2 linked regions of the Homo sapiens genome follow. Changing the gene in region 1 together with any one later gene gives a genetic interaction. Each region holds a gene or a part of one and is shown on either strand. Other genes may lie near its edges.

Region 1 (7,912 bases):
GGTCCTCTCTCCCAACCCACTGCAGCAACCATTGTTCTTGCGACGCTCCGGCGCCGTCGGTGTGTCTCGGCTCTCCACTCCTGAAGCTACACACAGCTACCGAGGATTTTTGTTTGCTTGCTTCTTTCTATTAAGGCAAAGGTTGGCAAATAGCGTGTGCTTGTCAGTTCCCTGGCCCTGCGATCCCCTTTGGACAGCAAGCTGTTCCTCGATCCCCGGGAAACAGGTGTGCGCCCTCTGCTCACGCTCCTCACCCGAAAGCAGGTGCGACCGTGGACATACACTTAACACTCTCACACCCATCCACTTATGCCCACTTTCACATACACATTCACATTCATTGACACACACCTGCACACACTCATATGTTCACATACACACTAACAATCACACACTCATTATATGCACACACGATTTGCACACACATTCACATAATCTTGCACACACACGGATTCACACACGTACATTCAAGTGCAATCACACACTTTTGCACACACAGGGCATCGGACGCACGAGGCCTTGAGCAATTGTGCCCGTGACCTACGACTGCCAAGATACTCCTACTGAGTTGATTTTACGTTGTTGATTCTGAGTGTTGGATGGTTTAAGGAAAGCCCCTGGATCCTGACAGGGAATCAGAGACAAGTCCTTCCAAGGCCTGTGGGAGCCGACAAAGGAGCCACCAAAGCCCCGTCGGGACCGGGAGGGCATAAATAATAAATAAAAAGGCCCAGGCAGGCCGAGCTGGGGAAGCCCGGCACTAAATCACTCCCTAAATCACAGTCGCGTCGTGCTCCATCCAATAGCTCTAAGCGATTTGTGGGGTTGGGGGTTGAAATCAATTTTTTCCGTTCTCGCAGGTGCAATATGAATCAATTATCTTAATTAAGATTATGCCGCAAGCCCAGGAGATTTGGGGAGGATGGGTTTTGCGCTCGGGGCGACGGCGAGGCATTTTAATAGCGTCTCTCGTTGCTCTTGGCTCTCCCGGGTCGCCTGCCTGTCGAGCCTGGGCAGCTCCAGCCTCAGGCCAGGACCCGGGAGCCCAACTGCCTCCCCCGGGGCGGAGGCGCCGCGTCGGCGGTCTGGTCAGAACCCGCATCAACCCCCCTTCATCCCCCGAAGCTCTCAAGAGCCTCCGAGCTACCCAGCCTGTGCAGGACCTGCAGCTCTCAGCCCTCCGTTCCTGCGGCCCCTGAGCCCCACGGTCTCGCGGGCCCCTCAGCCACCCGGCCCCCTCACTCCGCTCTCCCGCGCCCAGGCCCCGACACCCCACTCCTAGGCAGGGCGGGGAGAGGACGCGGGAACCTCTCGAGGTCGGCCGGGCTGCCCTGGCCACACTTGATCCTTTCATTGAACGCAAACCTCCCTTTGCAAGAGCGAGCATCTGTTTCCCTGAGAAACAGGTCACCGCCAGGGACGCCGGCCCGGCCCCTGCGCTTTATCTTGGCCCTGTGAATGCTTCGCCCCCGACCTCCCGCTCCCCGCTTTCGCCTCCAGCCACACGCTTCCCACCCCCTACGTCCGGGCCACACGCCTCCATCCCTTCCCCACCCCCATCCTCCCACATGCCTCCCCCTTCCCCTCCGCCCGGCCCAGGCCACACTCCCCTCTCCCCACCCCTGGCCACACGCCTCCTCCCGCCCCCCTTCCCGCGGGCGCTCCGGCTGCCGCTGTAACGGCCGGGACGCCCGGCCCGCGCCGCGCGCTCAGAGCGGGGACCCGGGAGGCGGCAGATTTGGGGCATTGCTCGAGGGCAGTGAGTCATGAAAGAGGCTTTTGTTGTCCGCGCGTGCGGTTCGCGTGCCGCTGGGTAGCCTGCAGCGCCCAGTAGGGACGGGAGCTGGGGGAGTACAGCTAACGGGCAGCGAGGGGAGAGACAAAAAACTTAGGGAATCAGGAGGGGGAAAAGTGTGCAACCGTCCAAACAAGTCCAAAGAGAAGAAAATAAGGAGGAGGAGCGGGGCCGCGGAGAAGGTCCTCAGTGCTAAGCCCCGCCGCGCCTTCAGCTCTGTCCTCTCCGGGATCCGGCTGACTCTCTTCTCTCGCCCCAATTTCTCGCGCCTTCAACCCCAAACAAAACGCACCTCAATCCAGGCCGTGTCCAGGCTCCTCTTTTTAGGGCCTTACTACCCCGCATCTCCTGGGAGCCTCGCGGGCACTGGCTGAGCGTCGCGATGCCGGCGCCCCGGGTCGAAATTTTCCGCGCAGAGGAGGGTCACATCGGAGCGCTGCGGGATGGGAAGCCCAAGGACAGCTACCGTGAGACCCAACCTCAGCCCTGTCTCTGAAACATCCTGGAGTGGCCTTTCCTTTGTACAAATCTCCAGGCCTGAGCGAACAACGCGCAGTGGGATTAGAGATGAATTTATCAAGGGTAGAGGGAGGAAACAGACTAGTAATTCCCGCACTTTACGCATTTGAGTCTCCGTCTGGCAAAACACTCGGGCGTCCCTCTTGCTCAAGAACATCTGACTCCACCATAATTCTCCTGTATTGCACAGGATGTCGCGAACTGGAGGTTTCTGCTTTCTGGGGGTGAGGACAAGGATTTAGCAGAGGGACCTCTAGGCTACCCCTGACCTCGAAGCTAGCTGGAGTCCTTTCTCCCACTCCGTCCCCAGTTCTCCTCCGGAACTCCCCAAAGTTGGAAAAATGAGAGCCTAGGCACGAGTTGCATATGCCTGCGGCATAGTGTGCTGCCAGTCGGGGCAGCTGCCGGGTGAGGGGCAGTACTTAACCTGGCCCTGCCGCAAACGTCGGGCTGTGTACTATCTTCTAAGGGCTAGTACTCCGACGCCCTCGAGTTTTAGCCCAACACTGAAGATACAGACAGTACAGGGGTAAATCCTGGGCCCAGGCTCCTGGGTGAATTATTTTATCCTCCCCTATGCGCTTTGTCAGCCAAGTGAATGTAGAAAAGCAAGCAAAACTCCAGAACCCCACAACGATTCACGCCACGCTTCGGTGGCACAACTCTTTTCTTCCCCTTTTAGATTAGTACTGTGCAGGGAAGGCTGCACCTGCTACCTTCAGACACCGGGGATCTGGCTAGGACCCTCTTCCTCTACCCCTACTCTCTCCTCCCGTCCCCACCCTCTCCCAGATGCACCCCAATCCAGCCTCTCAACCCTGTCGCTGTTTGCAAACTCGAGGGATGTTTAGTGCAATTGCCTTTAAATAAGCAATTCACGTAAGAGGTATTTATTGCAGAGGGTTTCAGGTCTGGGAGGGGGTAAGGAGTTAGTTAATGAAGGATTAGAGGCAAAGCTGGGAAAGAACGAGTAGACAGGCCAGTTTCTTTCTTTCTTTTTAAAATCTATTATTCTGGAAAACCCTTGTTCGAAAAGAGTAAAGAATTGCTATTTGGGCAACAATATGGCTCCTTCAGAACTGGTCGAGAATTTCTGTGGTCTTTGCTTGACCTTCAAGTTGGGAGTTTCAAATCAGAGGCTTTGAAGTCTGGAGGAGTTCGCAGCCATTAATCCTTCCGGGGTTGTGCTAAAGGCGTTTCTAGAAAGAGATCGGAAAGACCCGTTCAGCACAGGCCCATTGCATCTTCTCTTTGAAAACGCTTGTCTGAATCAAGTATCTTATACAGACCCGAGACTGAGGGGAGCAAGAGCGCAGGTCCGGCTGTGGCGAGGTGTCCACCACCGTACTTGTGGTCAATGCCTGGACTAGAGAGCCGAGGCCGTCCAGGGCGGGCTGGCCAGGGAACCAGAAGCGTCCCTGGACTGGCTGAGTGAGGGTGCCCTTTCCAGCAACCCAGTGGCCATGGTTAAAAGGCAGAATACAACCGTCAAAGAAGTCCCCAGCTCCCACATAAGAGAGCGCAAAGGCCAATGGAACCAAGGCCTCCTCGCGAGAACTAGCTCGCTTTGAGGACAAGATCCTGGGGATGGAGGTGGGGACTGACGTAGTGAGAGGGTCTGGAGGAACAGTCGTAGCTGAAGGTCAGGACATGAAGAATTGCACGTATGGTAGGGATAGAATGGCAGGTACAACTTTTCTGTACTGAAGGAACTGGGAGAGGACGATCCGGTTAGGGAGGTTGGGGAACTAATCTCAACGCTGCGTTTACAGATGAAGCCGCTTTTATATGGCGTATATGTTTGCTTAGAGGGGCCGACGGAGATTAGGAGAAGCCATCCTTTGGCGCCAATGATCAAAGCGTCTGCCAAGGAGAAGAAGCCAAGGGATGGGCCTTTCAGAGAGGGCAAGGAGTCATGCTGCTCTGGATGCCAGTGTCAGGACAAGAAATCGAAAGGAGCGAGGACTCTTCACTGCGTGCCTCAGTCTCCCCGCTTCTGCCTCTTTCACCTCTGTCCTACTTCCGGCGCGAAAGCAGGCCACTCGCTCTGATCTAGACCTAGTTAACATTAGCTTTTCCCTTCCTTCCCTCAAATCCCCTCCCCCCTCTATCCCCGTCCCTTCTGCCGCCTGAAAGGGTTAATCTCTCCTGCGGGTAAAAACAGGTCCGCGGAGTCTCTAACTGGCGACAGATGGGCCACTTTCTTCTGGCCACAAAGGGGCCGGAATGGAGCGCTCCGCGGCATACAAATGGGCAGGTCACGTGGTTCCAGGCTCTTGGCTGGACCGGGAAGACCATATGGCGCATGCCGGGGAGGAAGGAGGAGGGGCGGGGGTAGGGGTGGAGGGTGAGGGGAGCGGTTGTCGGAGGAGGGCGGGAGACGAGCAAGGCGTGGGGAGAAGTGGGGAGGAGGGGAGAACGGGGAGCGCACAGCCTGGACGCGTGCGCAGGCGTCAGGCGCATAGACCTGCTAGCCCCTCAGCTAGCGGCCCCGCCCGCGCTTAGCATCACTAACTGGGCTATATAACCTGAGCGCCCGCGCGGCCACGACACGAGGAATTCGCCCACGCAGGAGGCGCGGCGTCCGGAGGCCCCAGGGTTATGAGACTATCACTGCTCAGGACCTACTAACAACAAAGGTAATTACAGTTCTTTCATTTTTTTGCCCCAGAATAGAAGCAATAACTGAAGACTGATGAACCTACATATTCTGTATGTGTGCGTTTGCGAGAGTGTGTATGTGTATTGAGACCAGCATCCCCCTCCATAATTGCCCATAAGTACTCACACATAATGAGTCGTGTCACTCAAGTACCCCCTGCAGGCTTTCTAATTTAAATTTTAAAAATTTGGGTTTCTTTTGTGGATAGCATAGGAGCTTCTTGGATTTTTTAAAAGAATGCACGGTAACTATGATTATCTGCTAGTGCTGATTTTAAAGTCCCAAAAGCAATAATGACTTCACTTTCTCACTTCTTACAGTAAGAAAAAAAAATCTATGTTATCAATATATATTTTGTGTGCATGTATTTTACGCACATTGGGAGTGTCAAGCTGTGTTTTCAGTGAATGAAAGGGACATGGATACCTTGAGTATTCACACCATGGAAAATAAATCAGGTTCAGAGATAGTTTAGTTGAGAGGGGGGAAAGTGGAGAAAGGGAGAGGGACTCACTCCTGCTACCTGTTACCGCTCCAGAGGCGGCCAAGTCCCCAGCAGCCACTACTGGAGCCAGAAATTCAGTTGTTTTACTAAAGGCTTTTTATTTTCCTTACTAGAAGCGGCAACTTCGCGGTTGCCAATCGCTGACCATTATAATTACTCAATCTTTTAAAGGGAGGTTTGAGGCGAACTTTGAAAAGCCCCAATAAAGAGCGGGCGGCCCTTTCAATGGGCTGTTTATTAGAGAGGAGCCTTCCGCACCTGATCCCCGGCGCGTGGGAGAGCGCTCTGCGCCGCGCCCCCAGCCCTCGCCCTGCAGCTAGCGCTTTTGTACAAGGTGGAAATTTAGCGGTGGGCCAGAGATGGAAGGCAAGAAAAGAAAGGCGAGGGAGGGGTGGAAGACCCTGTCCACTTTTGTTGCCAAATGTTACATTGATGGTGAAACAATTTGGTGGAAACTATTTTTCCTCCTTTCTGCATTTGCTTTTCAGTATCCCGTCGATGTAATCTTCTTAAAAATCGCTGCCAGTATTAGTAAATTACGCAATGGCTGTTCAACTTAAATCGCTAAGTATCTGGAAGCCAGGACAGAAATGGAAGTAGAATGTGTGATTTTACAGCTTTTTTTTTTTTTTATGGAGTTGTGAGTAACTTTGAACACATTTGGATAAACATGAAGTCGCTGAAATGTACAGTCATTTCCACACACATTATCCTGTCGGGCAACCACCATAAACACATTTAAGTTAATCACTAGGATACAAACACATATGCGTGAGTGGTGTACACATATACATATTCACTACCCTCCCCCAGTCCTGTCCTCACTCCTACGTACTAGCGGGGCACACGCACGCGCCATTATAAAACACTGCATTTAACTTTTTCTCAGAGGCATTCATTTTGTAATGGGCAGGTACTTTTCGCAAGCATTTGTACAGGTTTAGGGAGTGGAAGCTGAAGGCGTATCTGGCTTTTGAATATAGCGTTTTTCTGCTTTTCTTTCTGTTTGCCTCTCCCTTGTTGAATGTAGGAAATCGAAACATGACCAAATCGTACAGCGAGAGTGGGCTGATGGGCGAGCCTCAGCCCCAAGGTCCTCCAAGCTGGACAGACGAGTGTCTCAGTTCTCAGGACGAGGAGCACGAGGCAGACAAGAAGGAGGACGACCTCGAAACCATGAACGCAGAGGAGGACTCACTGAGGAACGGGGGAGAGGAGGAGGACGAAGATGAGGACCTGGAAGAGGAGGAAGAAGAGGAAGAGGAGGATGACGATCAAAAGCCCAAGAGACGCGGCCCCAAAAAGAAGAAGATGACTAAGGCTCGCCTGGAGCGTTTTAAATTGAGACGCATGAAGGCTAACGCCCGGGAGCGGAACCGCATGCACGGACTGAACGCGGCGCTAGACAACCTGCGCAAGGTGGTGCCTTGCTATTCTAAGACGCAGAAGCTGTCCAAAATCGAGACTCTGCGCTTGGCCAAGAACTACATCTGGGCTCTGTCGGAGATCCTGCGCTCAGGCAAAAGCCCAGACCTGGTCTCCTTCGTTCAGACGCTTTGCAAGGGCTTATCCCAACCCACCACCAACCTGGTTGCGGGCTGCCTGCAACTCAATCCTCGGACTTTTCTGCCTGAGCAGAACCAGGACATGCCCCCCCACCTGCCGACGGCCAGCGCTTCCTTCCCTGTACACCCCTACTCCTACCAGTCGCCTGGGCTGCCCAGTCCGCCTTACGGTACCATGGACAGCTCCCATGTCTTCCACGTTAAGCCTCCGCCGCACGCCTACAGCGCAGCGCTGGAGCCCTTCTTTGAAAGCCCTCTGACTGATTGCACCAGCCCTTCCTTTGATGGACCCCTCAGCCCGCCGCTCAGCATCAATGGCAACTTCTCTTTCAAACACGAACCGTCCGCCGAGTTTGAGAAAAATTATGCCTTTACCATGCACTATCCTGCAGCGACACTGGCAGGGGCCCAAAGCCACGGATCAATCTTCTCAGGCACCGCTGCCCCTCGCTGCGAGATCCCCATAGACAATATTATGTCCTTCGATAGCCATTCACATCATGAGCGAGTCATGAGTGCCCAGCTCAATGCCATATTTCATGATTAGAGGCACGCCAGTTTCACCATTTCCGGGAAACGAACCCACTGTGCTTACAGTGACTGTCGTGTTTACAAAAGGCAGCCCTTTGGGTACTACTGCTGCAAAGTGCAAATACTCCAAGCTTCAAGTGATATATGTATTTATTGTCATTACTGCCTTTGGAAGAAACAGGGGATCAAAGTTCCTGTTCACCTTATGTATTATTTTCTATAGCTCTTCTATTTAAAAAATAAAAAAATACAGTAAAGTTTAAAAAATACACCACGAATTTGGTGTGGCTGTATTCAGATCGTATTAATTATCTGATCGGGATAACAAAATCACA
Region 2 (7,072 bases), on another chromosome or scaffold:
TCTTCCAGCTCTGGTGAGCAGAGGCCCTGGATTGTTTGTCGCGCTGGATGGAGGGAGATTTGCTCCCTCACGGCCACCATGCAGTACCTTGGGCATTGGTGTGGACGGCTCAGCCTGCCTGTGTCCCGTTACTCTGGCCTCGTCCTTCAGGCCAGGCAGCCTGTGGCCACTCCATGCTGAAAGGGGTTTACCTTGGCCACAGGGCCGCCTCCTTTCTCCACCCACCTCCAGCCCTTCTTGTGTCCTTAAGGAGCCTGAGCTGCAGAGGCCCCCTCCTGGCCTCTCCCAGGCTGGGCCACCTGCCAGAGGCGCCTCCAGGGGCGGGGAGAGCTGTCGGCCTGCCTGCACCACGTGCTCTGGGCAGCCGAGTGCAGGGGTGTCCAGCAGAGGAGCTCGGCTGCCTGAGGCCCTGCCAGGGGTGCCGGCAGCCAGCCGGGCTCAGCTGAGCCCTGAGGGGGCGCTTCAGAGCACTCTCAGCTTGGGCCGCCACCGTGGGCAGCAGAAGCACCCAGTCCTCACTTCCCCTGGCATGGCCCCAGAGGCCCCTCCCTGACATGGCCTTGGCCCCAGAACCCAGTGGGGACAGACTCGCACATACACAGGGTGCCGCCTCCTGCTGTCCCCAGCCCTGCCTCTGACCCCCCTGTGACCGCCTCCTTCCCTGGCCCAGGAGGCCTGGTTACCTTCATGGGGGAGCATGGCCCCATCCCACCCAGCTCTGCTGTGGCCCACCTTTGGTCAAGCCTCAGTTGTCACATCTGTTTGGGGGCTCACTCTGGGTGACCTAGGCCACAAGGCCCACGGGGCATCAAAGAGGCAGTAGCATCTTCTCCCCTCCCCAGAGGGCAGAGCCCCCCAAGCCTACTTCAGAGCTCCCTTCTGACACCGGTAGCCCGCAGCCGGTATTCCAGAATGGGTTCTGGTTTAGGCGTGAGGCCTCCCCCACCTCCTCCACCTGCTTGGGGCATGAACCCCTCCCCCACGTTTCCAAGCGAGTCCCCAAGGTGGGCAGATGAAGATGCCAAGGATGTCGACCAGTCTGGATGGGTCTGGGGTGGGGGGGCATGCGGCAGACAGGGAGGCATTCTCTGGCTGGTGCTCCTCAGAGGAGAGAGGCCTCCGGAGACTCCAGACAGCCTTTTATGGAGCTGAAAGTGGCTTCAGAGAAATGCAAAGTTTCCTGGAGAGAACGTGGGGCGTGGTTCTTGCACAGCCTCCCTACAGGGTGGCTCCAGCAGTGGAGCTCCCCTCCCAGGACCCCTGGGTGCTAGTGGGAGGCAGTGGGCAGGTGCAGATTCTCGTCCTTCCCACTACTGCACACCCTTTGTCTGCGAAGGCGCCCCCAGCGGTGGGTGAAGGAGGAGGGACACTTGGGGACCCAGCTGTGCACGTGCTCTCAGTGACTGTGGAGTCCACTCCAGGGTGGGTCCCGAGGGAGGGGCAGGAGACCAGGGGACCCACCCCTGCAAAGTGCTCCGGGTCCTGACCCGTGGCCACCCCATGGAACGTAACTGAGCAGCCAGTGCCTTGTTCCTGCTGGACATCTGTGGAGACAAGAGTGACTTACGGCTGCTTAAAGTCAGAAACAGGTTGAAGGAGGTGGAGGCGTGGGAAAGAGTCTAGGAAGGTGTTTTTGCCCTCCACGTGGCAAAGGTTACATTTAAAGGTGATGCTGGGTGTTCTCCCTGCACTAGGCATTCCTGGCCCCAGGTCCCCAGCAGGTGTGCACATGCTGCATACACTCACGCATGGGGGTTTCAGGGCAGGTGCGCCCTTGGCTCCGTGGGAGGCCAGGTGAGGAACGTCCAGTGCCAAGGAGCTTCCGGGACAGCTGTCACTTCCCTTTACAACCAGGCAGCGGATAGGGTCAAATCCTGGAGCTTTGGTGTCTAATTCTGGGTGGCTCCTAATCTAAGCACAGACAGCACCACACACTGGGGTGGGGGCACGAGCTTCTGAAACAACGTGGCCCCAGTGACTCCACGCTGTGTGTGCCCCTGGAGACGGGGGGGTGCACAAGGTGCGGAGCCAGCTAGAACCTGTCGCTCCCTGCAGAAGCGGTTTCTGTGTGCGGTTCTGATTTGCCTCAATGAGAAGGTTTTCATTCATGGCTCCCGGCTCTCAGACTGGGTGGAACTGCTCCCATTTAAAGGGGAAAAGAGGTGGCTCGGCTCGTTAAGGATTTCTTTTTCTAAGTTGTTACGGCGCCCAGCAGCCGGCTTTGTCTCCCCTTCAGGGTGGCTGCCTTTCTTCCCGGCCCCTCGCCGGCGGCCCTCTCTTTAACAAGGCCGAAGTTGTTTATTCTCTCGGGATGAAGTCTCGGATGGGCCGCCACACCCCTGGCGGCCCGTGGGGGCCCCTCTCCCTTTGTGCCTGGGTCGGCTCCCATTCAGCTCCCCCGACCCCCCTTGTTCCCGGGCGCTCAGTGGCGCGAGATGAGGCGATGGGGCCGACAAAGATGCCACACTCATCCCTGCCGACGTCCGGCTCCCAGCCCAGGGCCCCTGGTTCCTGTGCAGAATTCCTCGTGGGTGTGACAAAAGGCTGCCCCCAGGCTCCGCTGGGGTGGGGGCCAGGCCAAGAGGCACATCCCACACTGGCCCACCTGTCCACGGTAGGCGCATGACTGCCCTGAGGAGGGGAGGCCGGCATTCCCCGCCACAAACCAGGACGTAATTGGTGGCAGGGCTCTCTGTGGAAAGAGCCAGTCTGCTGTTTGTCTAGGAGGTCAGTCACAGAGGCCCCGAGACGCCCACTACTGCAGCCTGGCAGGCGGATGAGCCCAGTATCTGGCAGTGACCAGAGGGAGTTTTGTGCAGACCACAAAGGCTGATGGGCCGCCCTAGATTGGTGTCCCTCTTGGAAGTGGGCCCAGATGTGCGGGACAGTCCCCAGGAAGCCCCAGGTGAGGGCACTGGTGCCCTCTTGGGAAAGCTGCTCCCTCCTGGGGCCCGGCTCCCGGCCCAGTCCTCCAGGGGTGTCCCATGGTGACTGGTGCTAGGAACCCCACACCTCTTCCCTTACTTGGGAAGTCACTGGAATTGTTGGGCTACATCAGACGGCCCAGAAAAGTGTTTTTGTCATCGGCCAGAAATAGGAGAGTTGTGAGTAGAGGGCCCGGGTGGAGTTGGGGTGTACTTGGTCTGTGCTCTGAAGGTCACTGTGACAGTCATGGTCCCATGGTAAGGGGCATGGGTTGCTGGAAGAGCTCTTCCTTCCCGAGTGAGCCAAGCCGGGCTCTCCTGGCGCCAGGGCCTGAGCCGCAGCCACACCACAGCCGCCCTGAAGGCTGCCGGCCAGGGCTTACCCCTCAAGGGACACGGAATGGCTTCATCAGTACCCTGCAGCCCCGTGGCCTGGCCCGGGTGGAGGCCTAGGCTTCAGCCATGCGATGTCCCTTCAGAATATGACTTGTCTGCAATCCCTGCTGCTGGGGGGTGGCAGGTACTTGGGGTGAGGGTTAGGGTCATAGAAGCGACATCTCTACGTCCTCATATTTGCGTCATCTAATTTTGTTTTTGTGAATACGTGATAACATTCACAAGGCTCAAGATGCTAAAAGGATGAGAAGGCAGTGATGTCCCCATCACCTGTCCTGTGTCTTCCCGTGGCTTTCTCTTTCCTTGGTTATGTTTGAGTCAACAGTGGGGCTGACGTTCCAGGAGGGTCCGTGGGCCAGGCTCTTGCTCTCCGAGTGCCCAGGGATGGCTGGAGGCTGAGGAGGGCCTGGATGTGGAGCCTCAGATACCGAGTGCTTCCCTTCAGGCCGGGCCGCTTGCTCAGAGCCAGCACACAGGGATGCCCGGATCACGGGGGCCCTGAGAGGGTCCCCTGCTCACAGCCTCCTTCCCTCTCTCCTTCTGCCTCAGATGTGAAGTTCATTTCCAATCCGCCCTCCATGGTGGCAGCGGGGAGCGTGGTGGCCGCAGTGCAAGGCCTGAACCTGAGGAGCCCCAACAACTTCCTGTCCTACTACCGCCTCACACGCTTCCTCTCCAGAGTGATCAAGTGTGACCCGGTAAGTGAGGGTGATGTCCCAGGCAGCCTTGCCGGGGCTTACAGGGGGAGACACCTAGTGCCACGGAAATGCCGAGGCTGGTGCCAAGGCCCCCAAGGGTGACAAGGTTGGGGCTGGGGCTGGGCCCCTCGGACCCCAGGCCACAGACTGACAGGGCACCGGCTTCTTCCACTGCTCCTAGAACTTACTGACTGGCTGGGAGGTCCTCACAGCCTTCTCACGTCCCCTGGGGCTTCCAGGAGCCGTAGAGTTTCTGGGCGAAGCGTCCGGGACGGAGGCCCCAGGCGGCCCCAGCCAATGGTCTGTGTGGTGATGGTGTGTGGGGTTAGGCCCAGGCGAGCTTTGTTTGGGCCACAATGTGCGTGGCCAATAAATAGATGCTTGAAAAGGGCTCCTGTGAGGTCCGAGACACCGGACAACGGGCGGATAGAGACAGCCTTGTTGTTTACGGCCTCTTTGAGAGGCTGCTGCTGTTAAACCCTGGGATGACTGTGTCTTTCTTCTTAAAAATGCCATTGTTTTATTCCCGAGTCTTTTCTTAAAGAAAGAATTAAAATGACAATCAAAAGGGTTTGTGGCATTTACCAAATTAGACCAGAGAGGTGGCCGGGTCAGCCGCCGGCCCCGCGGTGTGTGAGGGAGTGACCGCCTGACCCCAGCTTGGGGCTGGGTGGGCCTGCAAGACCCGTTTTGGCTCTGGCCTGGGCCGCCTCTTGGTGGTCTGCCCTCGAGCCTCCCGGGGACTCCGCACGGGTCTCAGCAGATGCTATCTAGGGTCCACCTGCCTGTCCCCTGCCTAGTGGTGCCTCTGTCCCGGGGACACTGGGAGTAGCGGCTGCCCAGCCCATGTGTGTCTCGGAAGAGGAAGAAGCTTTTTTGCCGTGGGACACCGAAGTTGGCAGGGGCCTCCCTTCTGTGTTCTCGGCCATGGCCTCCCTTGCACCCTGCCCCGTGTTATCCTTTGGGGGTGGTGAGGTGTCCTCACCCGCTGTAGGGTGGAGGCCAGCAGCCCGCAGCTCTCTCAGGAAAATGGCTCAGAAACACCATCGAGGCCTCCAGAAGCCCAGCAAAGAGAAAGCCCCTCCATCAAAATGAAACTCGCGTCTGCACTTTTCATTTCGAACTCCACGCCCTGAGTGAAAACCGCTTCCCCGCCAGGGGTGACTGCCCTGGGATGTTGCTGTCTTCGGGCAGTTGTGGGAAGTTGGGCGCTGGCCCTTATTTGAGTAGAGACCATCTTAACTAGATTGGAGGCACACGTCTCACAGCTGACAGACACACGGGGTGAAGTTACCCGAGGCGGAGTCCACTCTGCCTGATCAGCTAGTGACCAACGTAGCTGAGCCCAGACTCAGAAAAACCGTCCACAGCAGAGGCCCCTGCATTTTCTAGGGCGTGTTCTAGAATTTTCTTTGGTGGGTGGAATGTCCATCTGTGCAAATCGGGTGCGCAGTGCCACACACCAGTGACTTTTCGCGGAGGAGCGTGCTGCCTTTTTGGAGCTTCTGGCTGTGGGAGAACAGCTTTGTCCACCGGGGTAGCCTTGCAGGCAGCTGTGGGGCCAGAGGAATGAAGGAAGGTCCTGGAGTCTAGCTGCATGTGTGACCCTGGAGTGGGTCATGGGCGAGGGACGGGCCGCAGGTGAAGAATCCCTGGATGGAGCTGCCAGGCCCCTGGGGCTGAGAATTGAAGCTGGCTGGTGTTTTAGGTTGAACGTCAGGAGTCTTGTATCTCACCCCAGGCCTCTGGCCTCAGTTTCCCCATCTGTACAGTGGGACTGTTTGTGCAGCCAGCCCGGCCAGCTTCATTTGCCATGATGAGAATTTATCTGAGGGGCGGGAGAGGAAAGCCCTCCCTATAAAGGTACAGGCGCTAAAATGTCGTGACCTCAGTGGTCCACCTAAAAGTCGTTCTGGCCTGGGTCATCGCCTGTCGTGCTATGCCTTTGTCCAGCCCCTTCTGGTTGGGAGTTAAGTGGCACCTGTGCGGCACGTGGTGGGGCTGTGGCCCAGCCCTGCTCCTTGTGGAAGGTCTGTTTCCTGGGCTGCCTAGAGACTTGGCTTGAAGCCCTAGCGTGGCTTCCTGGCAGTTGGGACACACACAGCCCCAACACATGGAGCCGGTTCTCCATCCAGAAGCCCCCGGGCAGTAAGCAGCCACTTCAGGCTGCGTGGGACTTGCCCGTGGTGGAGCCTAGGAGAGGCCCCTGGCTGGGCGTGGCGTTCCAGATTTCACGGCTGCTCTTTCCCACTGACAGTGTGGTGTGGACGCTGCCAAGGGAGTCTGGAGCCCCAGAGGGTGGAGGTGCAGGACTTCCAGGAGCGTCCGTCGCACTCCACCCGAGGGCGAGCACCTCAGTGGCCGCAGTGGGTGGATGCATGCTGTGCCAGGCTGATGGCTGGCCCCGGGGCACAGGCCTGAGCGGGAGAGGATGGAGGGGAGGGATCAATGGTCCAGGTCCCCCTGGCCACCCAGCATTCATCCTCAGTCATGCACGGCCCAAGGCTTCGACAGCCATTGATCATGGAAGGCCAGGTTCACCTCAAGGGCTGCCACATGGAGAGGTTAAGTCTGAAAAGGCTGAAAAGGCAGGGTTCAAAGGGCCTCCTGTCCAGATCAGATGGCACTGAATTCCCCAGGGAGCTGGCACGGCCAGTGGGAACAGGCGGTGAAGGCGCTGTTGGACATGGGGACGGGCAGGGGGTGTGCAGGGTGGGCGGGCAAGCATCTGGTGTCTTGTGGCTCCAGAGACCAGGTGGGAGGTGGAGGCATTTGGTCCTGAGTGTCCTGACAGGTGATGGCAGCTCCCACATCTCGCTCAGGTTCAGAGGAGGCAGCATGGGCCGAGGGACAGTTTTTGGCTTAGTCTTGCTCTTATAAAGGCTTCCGGGTCATGGCACCTGGGAAGGGGCCCTCGCTGCAGGCCCCTTCTAAGGACCCCCTCTTCCCACCTCTCCCCACCCTCTCTCTCTCAGGACTGCCTCCGGGCCTGCCAGGAGCAGATCGAAGCCCTGCTGGAGTCAAGCCTGCGCCAGGCCCAGCAGAACATGGACC

What was found.
Region 2: of NEUROD1 (region 1) and CCND1, changing one suppresses a phenotype caused by changing the other (phenotypic suppression), as found in Homo sapiens cells (one study listed by BioGRID).

The regions. Positions count from the first base shown.
Region 1 is NC_000002.12:181,677,471-181,685,382, reverse strand, and holds the start of NEUROD1 (neurogenic differentiation factor 1), read left to right. Parts: upstream 1-4,865; 5' UTR 4,866-4,953; intron 4,954-6,511; 5' UTR 6,512-6,522; coding exon 6,523-7,593; 3' UTR 7,594-7,912. UniProt on the Homo sapiens protein: Acts as a transcriptional activator: mediates transcriptional activation by binding to E box-containing promoter consensus core sequences 5'-CANNTG-3'.
Region 2 is NC_000011.10:69,644,125-69,651,196, forward strand, and holds part of CCND1 (G1/S-specific cyclin-D1), read left to right. Parts: intron 1-3,869; coding exon 3,870-4,018; intron 4,019-6,993; coding exon 6,994-7,072. UniProt on the Homo sapiens protein: Regulatory component of the cyclin D1-CDK4 (DC) complex that phosphorylates and inhibits members of the retinoblastoma (RB) protein family including RB1 and regulates the cell-cycle during G(1)/S transition.